Regions from separate parts of the Homo sapiens genome. Here region 1 is linked to region 2. The links come from fine-mapping of genetic effects on gene expression. Tissue or cell type: whole blood. Region 2 holds a variant in brackets; the other region holds the start of a gene. All regions are shown on one strand. Distances are between the middles of the regions.

Region 1 (5,149 bases), 260 kb before region 2:
AATAGCAAAGATGCGGAACTAACCTAAATGCCCATCAATAGCAGGCGATATAAAGAAAATGTACATGCACACCATAGAACACTATGCAGATGTAAAAAAGAATCAGCTCATGTTATTTGCAGGGACATGGATGCACTGGAGGCCATTATCCTTAGCAAACTAACACAGGAACAGCAGACCAAATACTGGATGTTCTCACTTCTTTTTTTTTGAAACGGAGTCTAGCTCTATTGCCCAGGCTGGATTGCAATGGTGCGATCTCGGCTCACTGCAACATCTGCTTCCCAGGTTCAAGTGATTCTCCTGCATCACCCTCCCGGGTAGCTGGGATTACAGGCGCCTGCCATCATGCCCGGCTAATTTTTGTATTTTTAATAGAGACGGGGTTTCACCATGTTGGCCAGGCTGGTCTTGAACTCCTGACCTCAGGTGATCCACCTGCCTCAGCCTCCCAAAGTGCTGGGATTACAGGCGTGAGCCACCATGCTTGGCCACTGACTCCTTTCTTACTCCTGGCTTTGTTGAGTTATAGTTGACAAATAAAAATTGTATATATTTAAGGTGTACAACTTGATGTTTTGATATACATACAGTGAAATAATGAAGCAATTAGCACATCCATCGCCTCACATATTTGCTTTTTTTTTTTTGGTGGTAAGAACACGTAAGACCTACCCTCTTAGCACATTTCAAGTACATAATATGTTCCTGTTAACTACAGTCACCATGCTGTACATTAGATCTCCAAAACTTATTTATCTGAAATAACTGAACCTTTGTACATTTTGTTTTTTAAATGATACATTTCTTTTATTTTTATTTTTAGAGACAGTGTCTTGCTATGTGGCCCAGGCTGGTCATCTGGAACTCCTGGACTCAAGCGATCCTCCTGCCTTGGCCTCCCAAAGTGTGCTGTGATTACATGCATGAGCCACCCCGCCCGGCCCAACTTCTTTGTAAGAACATTTAGCTTAAAACACAGATAAATTGTACTGCATAAAGGTATTTTCTTTCTTTATATCCTTATTCTATAAGCTATTTTTCATTTTTTTTTTTGAGATGGAGTTTTGCTCTTGTTGCACAGGCTGGAGTGCAATGGCAAGACCTTGGGTCACTGCACCCTCCACCTCCTGGGTTCAAGCAATTCTCCTGCCTCAGCCTCCCGAATAGCTGGGATTACAGGCGCATGCCACCATGCCCAGCTAATTTTTGTATTACTAGTAGAGACTGGGGGTTTCATCATGTTGGCCAGGCTGGTCTCGAACTCCTGACCTCAAGTGATCCACCAGCGTCGGCCTCCAAAGTCTTGGGATTGCAGGCGTAAGCCACCGCGCCCGGTCTTTTCATATTTTTAAAACCTTTTTAAATGTGAGTAATGTGTTGCACTGCAACATTGTGACAGTTACAACATCACTAGGTGATAAGAAATTTTCAGCTCCATTATAACCTTATGGGATCACAACTGTGTATGTGTTTCGTGGTTGACCAAAACCTTGTTATGTGGTGCATGACTGCACATGTGCTTGATATATAAAGAATACCAGGGAACTAGTGACAGTGGTTGTTTCAGGGGAGGAAAATTTAGGAATAGAGTGAGCCTCCCGTTTGAACTTTTCCCATAGGTATGTACTATGTATACTACATAATAAATAGTTTTTAAAAAGTCAGATCTATGTCTTAGATTCACACATCTTATTTTTAGTGAGAAGGGCAAGCTGTAGAAGAAACAAAAATACATCGTCCTATTTTTAGAATAAAGACAGTTAGTTGACCCGTGAACACCAAGGGTTTGAACTGTGGCTATCCCCTTATAGGTAGATTTTTTTCTACCTTTGTCCTCCTTGGGACAGCAAGACAAACCCCTCCCTTTCCTCAGCCTACTCAGGGTGAAGCTGACGATGAAGACGTTTATTTATGATCTTTACGATCACTTCCACGTAACGAAGAGTAAATATATTTTCTCTTCTTCATGATTTTCTTAATAACACTTTCTTTTCTCTGAGCTTAGTTTATTTTAAGAATATGGCATATAATATACAAAATATGTGTTAACTAACTTTATGTTATTGGTAAAGCTTCTGGTTAACAGTAGTCTATTAGTAGGTAGGTTTTGGGGGAGTCAAAAGAAGTGAATTTTCCACTGCACAGGGTGGCGCCCCAACTCCCGTTGCCTAAGGGTCAGCCGTATAAAAATATACAAAAACAATCTTAAGTATGGGTATATTTTTGTAGGGGATTGGATTAAGCCCATGGATAAAGGTGGAAGGGGTTGGGGAAAAGGAAGGAGAAAAGGGTAAGTTAAATATTGAGCATCCCTAAAGAGACCCGGGGAGGGGTCGGGTGTGCCCCTCTCAACCCTTGAAGCCCAGGTCCCCTCATCCCGCCTTCCGAATGCAAGTTCAGCTCCCATTCCCACCCCAAGCACAAGCCCCGCCCCATTTTTGCCCCTGAGGCGCACGACCCGCCCCTACTACCACCCTGCAAACCAAGGCCCCGCCCACTCCGCCATTGGGGTGCAAGCCCCGCCCATCAGCCATCGGAGGGCAAGCCACACTCCACCCCGCCCCCGCGCACAGGCCCCGCCCCACTTTTGCCCCGGGACCTAAGCCCCACCCCTATCCCTGTCTCTCGGACATAGGCTCCGCCCCCAGCACCACCCTCCATGCTCTGTGGGACCCCACTCCAGAGCCTAACCTCATCCCCCGGGTAAGAATACTAGAATTTCTCCTTGGAGGCTAAAGAAGACGTTAGTTTCTCTGCCGCCGCCTAAGGCTACCCTGGCCACAACAGCCTGAGCCACAGCCACTTCCGTTCCCGGCGGCCCCGAGACCGGAAGCGGAAGTGCGCGCGGCGGCGGCCGACGGCGGCTGAGCTGTGCTGCGCGGCGCGGCGCGGTGCGGCACGGCACGGTGGGAGTGTCTCCGGCTGGCTTGCAGGTGTGGCCCGGCCCCTCGGGAGGGCGGGGAGGGCGGGGAGGGCTCGGCTGGCGCGGGGAGGGACTGGAGGGCCTAGAACAGCTCCGCCTGTGTGAGGGGTTTCCTCCCTGCGATCAGCCGGTGGCCGGCGTGAGGCCCACACAGTCAGGGCCTCGCATCTGGGCGCCCGCCGCCCGGTCTCTCGCTCTCAGGTACCCCCCGTCCGGGCAGACAGGGCTGTCATCCTGTCAAAAGGGAAATCCCAAACAGTCCAGGTCCCACAGCTCAGAAATGTGGTGACACCGGCCCCAGCTCTCACCTGTCCTTCCCAATTTTTAGGGAAAGTGCATAAAGACGGCCCTACCTTGCCTACAGTATGCAAGATAACTGCGAATTAGTAATTCACGTTTTATTTGATATGATACTTAATATTATCTAGCTTTGCAACTGGAAAGTGAGGTCTGGGTCCACATGTGCAAACTGGTTTAATTGATTGGCCAAATTTACTTAAAAAATTGAATGCATCCTCCATTAAGGAATGAATTAGATGACGAGAGATTTCTTTTGGAGACTGACAATTTGAAGTCTTTTAGCTTAATATCTGTTAGCTTGGCTTTGCATCTCTTCCTTTTCCATAACTTTTTCTTTCTTCTTTTTTTTCTTTCTCATAAGAAAGCTTTTGGCCAGGCTTGGTGGCTCACTCCTATAATCCCAGCACTTTGGGAGGCCGAGGCGGGTGGATCACCTGAGGTCAGGAGTTTGAGACCAGCCTGGCCAACATGGTGAAACCCTGTCTTTACTAAAAATACACAAATTAGCCGAGCGTAGTGGTGGGCGCCTGTAATCCCAACTACTCGGGAGGCTGAGGCAGGAGAATCGCTTGAACCCCAGAGGCGGAGGTTGCAGTGAGCTGAGATTGTGCCACTGCACTCCAGCCTGGGTGACAGAGCAAGACTCCATCTCAAAAACAAAAACAACAACAAAAGGAGGAGTTCTTAATTTTTTTTGTTTTTGTTTTTCTTTATTTTCTATGTTTGAGACGACTTTTACTTCTGCTGTGGGCATCAAGTTTCTCACTGTTAGGTTAAGAAAAGCCGTTTCTCAGTTATTTCACAAATATTATTATCAAGAAAACCTAAGACTGTTATTCAGATCTTTTCAAGTTGGCTCCAGTCCTTCCCCCAAGCATGTGAATCACAGAGCTTCAAAACTAATGGAACTTCAGGGAAAAGACGATATAAACTTTGTTAATACTGGAAATTCAAATTGAGTTGGCCATAAGTGGGATGTCTTTTTTAATAATGGGGTTAAAGCTCGTGTCTACTGAGAAATCAGGAAAAAATTAACTCCAGAGGAAAATCATGCATCAGATTTCAGTTTTACGAGTGAGGTGTTTGTTTCCACAAAGAATATATGCGCTTGCCTTGCCTTTTTAAAAAGAATTAATATTGTTTCTTAAAGGTACCTGAAACTTGTGTGATTATGTCTTATGAAAGACAGGCACTTTAAGTTATTCTTATATTTGATTTTTATGGTGTCATATTGTCTTTTTTTTTTTTTTTTTTGAGACAGAGTCTCACTTCATCACCCAGGCTGGAGTGCAGTGGCACAATCTCGGCTCACTGCAGCTTCTGCCTCCTGGGTTCAAGCAATTCTCGTGCCTCAGCTTCCCAGGCAGCTGTGATTATAGGCGCCCGCCACCATGCCCGGCTAATTTTTGTATTTTTAGTAGAGACGGGGTTTCACCATGTTGGCCAGGCTGGTCTGGAACTCCTGACCTCAGGTGATCCACCCGCCTCGGCCTCCCAAAGTGCTGGGATTATAGGCGTGAGCAACCATACCTGGCCTCATACTGTGTTTTGTGTGTGCGTGGGCATATTCCTTCTTAGGCTAGCTATACTGAGTCATTCTTGAGGAGTGTTGATTATTTGGCATATTTTCACTGGGGTGCCCTCAATGAATTGGACCCTGTACATGGGGAAACAGTGGGACTGAAATAGTTACAGTGCTTGCCCCTGTGGAGGCTTTATTCTAGCTAATAATATTGGTAAATTAATAGTGCCAAAGGCAATATGAGAACGTGGAACAGGAGAACTTGGGGAGGATGTCAGGAAACACATCTGAAAAGGAACAAATGTTTGAACCTTCAAGATGAGTTGTACGTAGCTAAACAAGGGGTCTAGCTGTGGAGTGGGGTAGCGGAGGAAACTTGAGAGAACATTCCAGATGTACAG
Region 2 (5,136 bases):
TTTTTTTTTTTTTTTTTTTTTTTGAGGCAGAGTCTTGCTCTGTCGCCCAGGCTGGAGTGCAGTGGCGCAATCTCGGCTCACTGCAAGCTCCGCCTCCCGGGTTCACGCCATTCTCCTGCCTCAGCCTCCTGAGTAGCTGGGACTACAGGCACCCACCACCACGCCCAGCTAACTTTTTGTATTTTTAGTAGAAACGGGGTTTCACTGTGTTAGCCAGGATGTTCTCGATCTCCTGACCTCGTGATCCGCCCGCCTCAGCCTCCCAAAGTGCTAGGATTACAGGCGTGAGCCACCGCGCCCAGCCACATATGAAATTTTTACACATACAATATATACTGATCAAATCAATGTAATTGGGGTATCTATCGCTTCAAGTATTTATCATTTCTTTGCGTTATTAACATTCCAATTCCACTTTTTTAGTTATTTTGAAATATACGATAAATTATTGTTAACTATAGTCACCCTGTTGTGCTACCAAATACTAGATTTTGTTCCTTCTAACTGTAGTTTTGTAGTCATTAACTATCCCTTCTTTATCCTCCCTCCCTCCTTACTGCCCCTCCTAGCTTCTGGTAACCATCATTCTACTCTGTTTCCATGAGTTCAGTTTTTTTTAGCTCCCACATACAAGTGAGAACATGTAATGTGTTTTTCTGTGCCTGGCTTATTTCTTTTGTTGTTGTTGTTTGGGTTTTGCTTTTTTTTTTTTGAGACGGACTTTTGCTCTTGGCACCCAGGTTAGAGTGCAATGGTGCGATCTCGGCTCACTGCAACCCCCACCTCCCGGGTTCAAGCCATTCTATCTGCCTCAGCCTCCCGAGTAGCTGGGATTACAGGCAGCCACCACCACGTCCGGCTAATTTTTTTATTTTTCGTAGAGACCAGGTTTCATCATATTGACCAGGCTGGTCTTGAACTCCTGACCTCAGGTGATCTGCCCGCCTCTGCCTCCCAAAGTGCTGGGATTATAGGCGTGAGCCACCAAGCCCGGCCGCCTAGCTTATTTCATTTAACATCATATCCTCCAGCTCCACCCATGTTGTTGTAAATGATAGGATCTCTCATTAATTTTTATGACTGAATAGTGCTCCATTGTGTATATGTAACACATTTTCTTTATCCATTCATCTGTTGATGAACACTTAGTTGGATTCCAAATCTTAGCTATTGTGAATAGTGCTGAAACAAACATGAGAGTGTATAAAAGACATCTCTTTTATGTATGTATTTATTAAATATTTCCACAGCTTTCCATTCATCTTTTATTATCTTTATTGTTTTACTTGCAGCTGTTTAATATGTTTGAGTCCATCAGTTATCTTCTCAGTTCTCTTCTTTTCTCTTTCTTCCATCTGGATTTCTGCTCAGAGGGTTAATCTATCTTTTTTTCTAGAATTCTGCTGCTATTTGACATTTTTCCTCCAACTTCATTCTATTATGGTGGTTGATGTTAAGATAGGAATTTAAGTTGATTTTGCTCCCCAATTAATAACCAATTATCCAAGTACCATTTTTAACGTCCTTCCTTCCCTCAATCAAAAAATTGATTTTTTTTCTTTTTCCTTTTCTTTTTTTTTTTTTTTTTTTTTTTTTTGAGGTGGAGTTTCACTCTTGTCACCCAGGCTGGAATGCAATGGCGCAATCTCAGCTCACTGCAACTTCTGCCTCCCGGGTTCAAGTGATTCTCCTGCCTCAGCCTCCCAAGTAGCTGGGATTACAGGCGCCCGCCACCACACTCAGCTAATTGTTGTATTTTTAGTAAAGACGGGGTTTCACCATGTTGGCCAGGCTGGTCTCTAACTCCTGACCTCGGGTGATCCACCCGCCTCAGCCTCCCAAAAAGTGCTGGGATTATAGGCGAGAGCCACCACGGCCGGCCCCCTCATTGATTTTAATGTCACTTCTATAATATAGTAGCTTATTTTACTGAATTTGTTTTTCATTATCCAGCAGCATTGGTATACAGTCATGCCCCACATGATGATGTTTTGGCCTAAGACAGACCACATATATTATGGTAAACCCATAAGATTATAATGGAGCTGAAAATTTTCTTTTCTTTTTTTTTTTTTCTTTTTTCGAGACAGAGTCTTGCTCTGTCGCCCAGGCTGGAGTGCAGTGGCACAATCTCAGCTCACTGCAACCTCCGCCTCCTGGGTTCAAGCAATTGTCTTTCCTCAGCCTCCGGAATAGCTGGGATTACAGATGCCCACCACCATGCTTGGCTAATTTTTGTATTCTGAGTAGAGACGAGGTTTCACCGTGTTGGCCAGGCTGCTCTCCAACTCTTGACCTCATGATCCACCTGCCTTGGCCTCCCAAAGTGCTGGGATTACAGGTGTGAGCCACTGCGCCTGGCCCGGAGCTGAAAATTTTCTACAGCCTAATGACTTCATAGTCACTGTACTTCAGAATGCAACACATTACTCACACGTTTGTGTCAACAAATCTACTGTTCCACCTGCTGTATAAAAGGCAAGCACATACAATTATGTATATAGTGCAGAATACTTGACAATGAAAATAAACGACTATGTTACTGATGTGTGTACTTACTATATTATACTTTTTTATCACTATTTTAAAGGTTACTCCTTCTACTTATTAAAAGAAAAAGTTAACCATAAAACAGCCTCAAGCATGTCCTTCAGAAGATATTCTAAAAGAAGGCATTGTTAATACAGGAGATGGCAACTCCGTGCGTGGTATTGCCCCTGAAGACCTTCCAGTGGGACAAGATGTGAAGGTAGAAGACAGTAATACTGATGATCCTGACCCTGTGTAGGCCTAGGATAATGCGTATGTTACAAATTTTTTAAACAGAAAAAAAAAACCATATAGAATAAGAATATAAAGAAAAAACATTTTTGTACAGCTGTACAATTTATTTAAGCTACCCGTTATTACAAAACAGTCCAAAAGTGGTTTTTTATTGTTGTTGTTGTTCTGTTTGATTTATTTATCTTTTTTTTTGAGATGGGGTCTGGCTCTGTAGCTCAGGCAGGAG[T/C]GCAGTGGCGCAATCTCAGCCCACTGCAACCTCCACCTCCTGGGTTCAAGCGATTCTTCCTGTCTCAGCCTCCTGAGTAGCTGGGATTACAGGTGGCCACCACCACACCCGGCTCATTTTTGTATTTTCAGTAGAGACAGGGTTTCACCATGTTGGCCAGGCTGGTCTCGAACTCCTGACCTCAGGTGATCCGCCCGTAATCCCAGCACTTTGGGAGGCCAGGGCTGCGGATCACTTGAGGTCAGGAGTTTGAGACCAGCCTGACCAACATGGCAAAACTCCCGTCTCTACTACAAATACAAAAATTAGCCAGGCGTGGTGGTGGGCACCTATAATCTCAGCTACTCTGGAGACTGAGGCAGGAGAATTGCTTGAACCTGAGAGGTGAAGGTTGCAGTGAGCCGAGATCTTGCCACTGTACTCAAGCCTGGGTGACAGAAAGAGACTCTGTCTGAAAAAAAAAAAATATATATATATATATATATATACATATATATATATATATATATACACGTGTGTGTATATATATATACACGTGTGTATATATATACGTGTATATATAGTGTATATATATATGTGTGTGTGTATATATACGTGTGTATATATATACGTGTATATATATACTTGTGTGTGTGTGTGTGTGTGTGTATATATATATATATATCTCATTACTGGGAGATATAATTGCTTTCTACTGAACTGAAAACGGCCCTGCGAGGGGCATTTCTACTGAACTGAAAACTCACATCTGGTCTCTCCTGGACTCTGTCCCATGCACCTTTGCTTTTGCTGATTTTAATCTTTACCCTTCACTGTAATAAACCATAACTGTGAGTATGATAGCTTTTCTGAGTTCTACGAGTCTTTTTATTTTATTTTATTATTATTATTATTTTTTGAGACTGGTTTCAAACTCCTGGACTCAAGCAATCCTCCTGCCTTGGCCTCTGAAAGTGCTGGGATTGTAGGTGTGAATCACCACGCCTGTCTTGAATTCTATGAGTCTTTCCTTTTTTTTGAAACAGAGTCTCACTCTGTTACCAGGCTGGAGTGCAGTGGCGCCAATCTCAGCTCACTGCAACCTCCGCCTCCCGGGTTCAAGTGATTCTCCTGCCTCAGCCTCCTGAGTAGCTGAGACTACAGGCGCCTGCCACCACGCCTGGCTAATTTTTTGTATTTTAGTAGAGACTGGGTTTCCCCATGTTGGCCAGGCTGGTCTCGATCTCCTGACCTCATGATCTGCCCGCCTCAGCCTTCCAAAGTGCTGGGATTACAGGCGGGAGCCACCACGCCCAACCCTGAATTCTATGGGCCTTTCTAGTGAATTGCTGAACCTAAAGGTGGTCTTGGGGGACCCCTGACACAGAGACCATGGATATTGTTTTATCAGGAGAAATAATGGTTTTTCTTTACCTTCTTCTTCCGCCACTCTTTGAGAATGTGAGAAACATGAGTTGACCACTCTTCTTGTTGAAGCTGAAGCTTCCCTTCTCCCCAAACCTAGGAGAAACGTTTCTTCCCCTCCCTTGCTCACGCCGTCCTTCAAGCCCTCAGCATATGCTCAGAGAGAAACAGAGACCTTATATACCTTTCATTCCTGCTCCTTTATTTCACTTTTCCCTCCCCCCTAAATGAGTCAAGCAGAACGTGTGTTCAGCCCACGGTCAGTTGGGCAACAGATGTGTCACCAGGACTCCCCTCCCCAGCCCCCTTCCCTCCTCTCTGGGGGGGCAGAGCTGGAGGCCCCTCACATAGCACTCTCGTTGCCTCCCCGTCCCCGGGATGCCCCCTTCTCCTGTGCCATGAGGGACTTGTAGGGTTTCCCCAGGCTGGGGAGGGTAAGCTCAGCTTCCTGAAGCTCCAGCTCCCGCTGAGACAAGTGCTCGATGACGGCCGCTCCAATTGAGTCCCCCAGTACGTTGGTCATTGTGCGAAGCCGGTCACTGGTACAGGGGAGAAAGAAGCTGCCATTAATGGGGGCTTGAAAAGCTTCACAGAAAGAGGGTGCAGCAGAGGGGGGTCCCTGTGCCAGGGAGTCAGAGGGCTCCCATTGCAGTACAATCCATGACCACATGTCCCCAAGCAGGTTCTTCCCCCTCTCTGCCCTGTTTCTCCTACTAACAAAC

Evidence for each region. PIP is the estimated chance that this variant, and not a neighbour inherited with it, causes the effect.
Region 1: ZNF333 starts here. The variant in region 2 is fine-mapped to the expression of ZNF333 in whole blood (TOPMed, PIP above 0.99).

What each region holds. Positions count from the first base shown.
Region 1 is chr19:14,687,215-14,692,363 of GRCh38, forward strand. ZNF333 (zinc finger protein 333) reads left to right here and starts at 2,834. Exons shown (of 12, transcript NM_032433.4): 1 at 2,834-2,936. RefSeq lists silencers at 2,428-2,477, 2,808-3,177.
Region 2 is chr19:14,945,438-14,950,573 of GRCh38, forward strand. SLC1A6 (solute carrier family 1 member 6) reads right to left here. Exons shown (of 10, transcript NM_005071.3): 10 at 4,596-4,953. The coding sequence ends at 4,758. Among named protein-coding and RNA genes, the nearest start is that of OR7C2, 6.5 kb to the left of the region's middle. The variant T/C (reference allele first, on the strand shown) is at 3,011.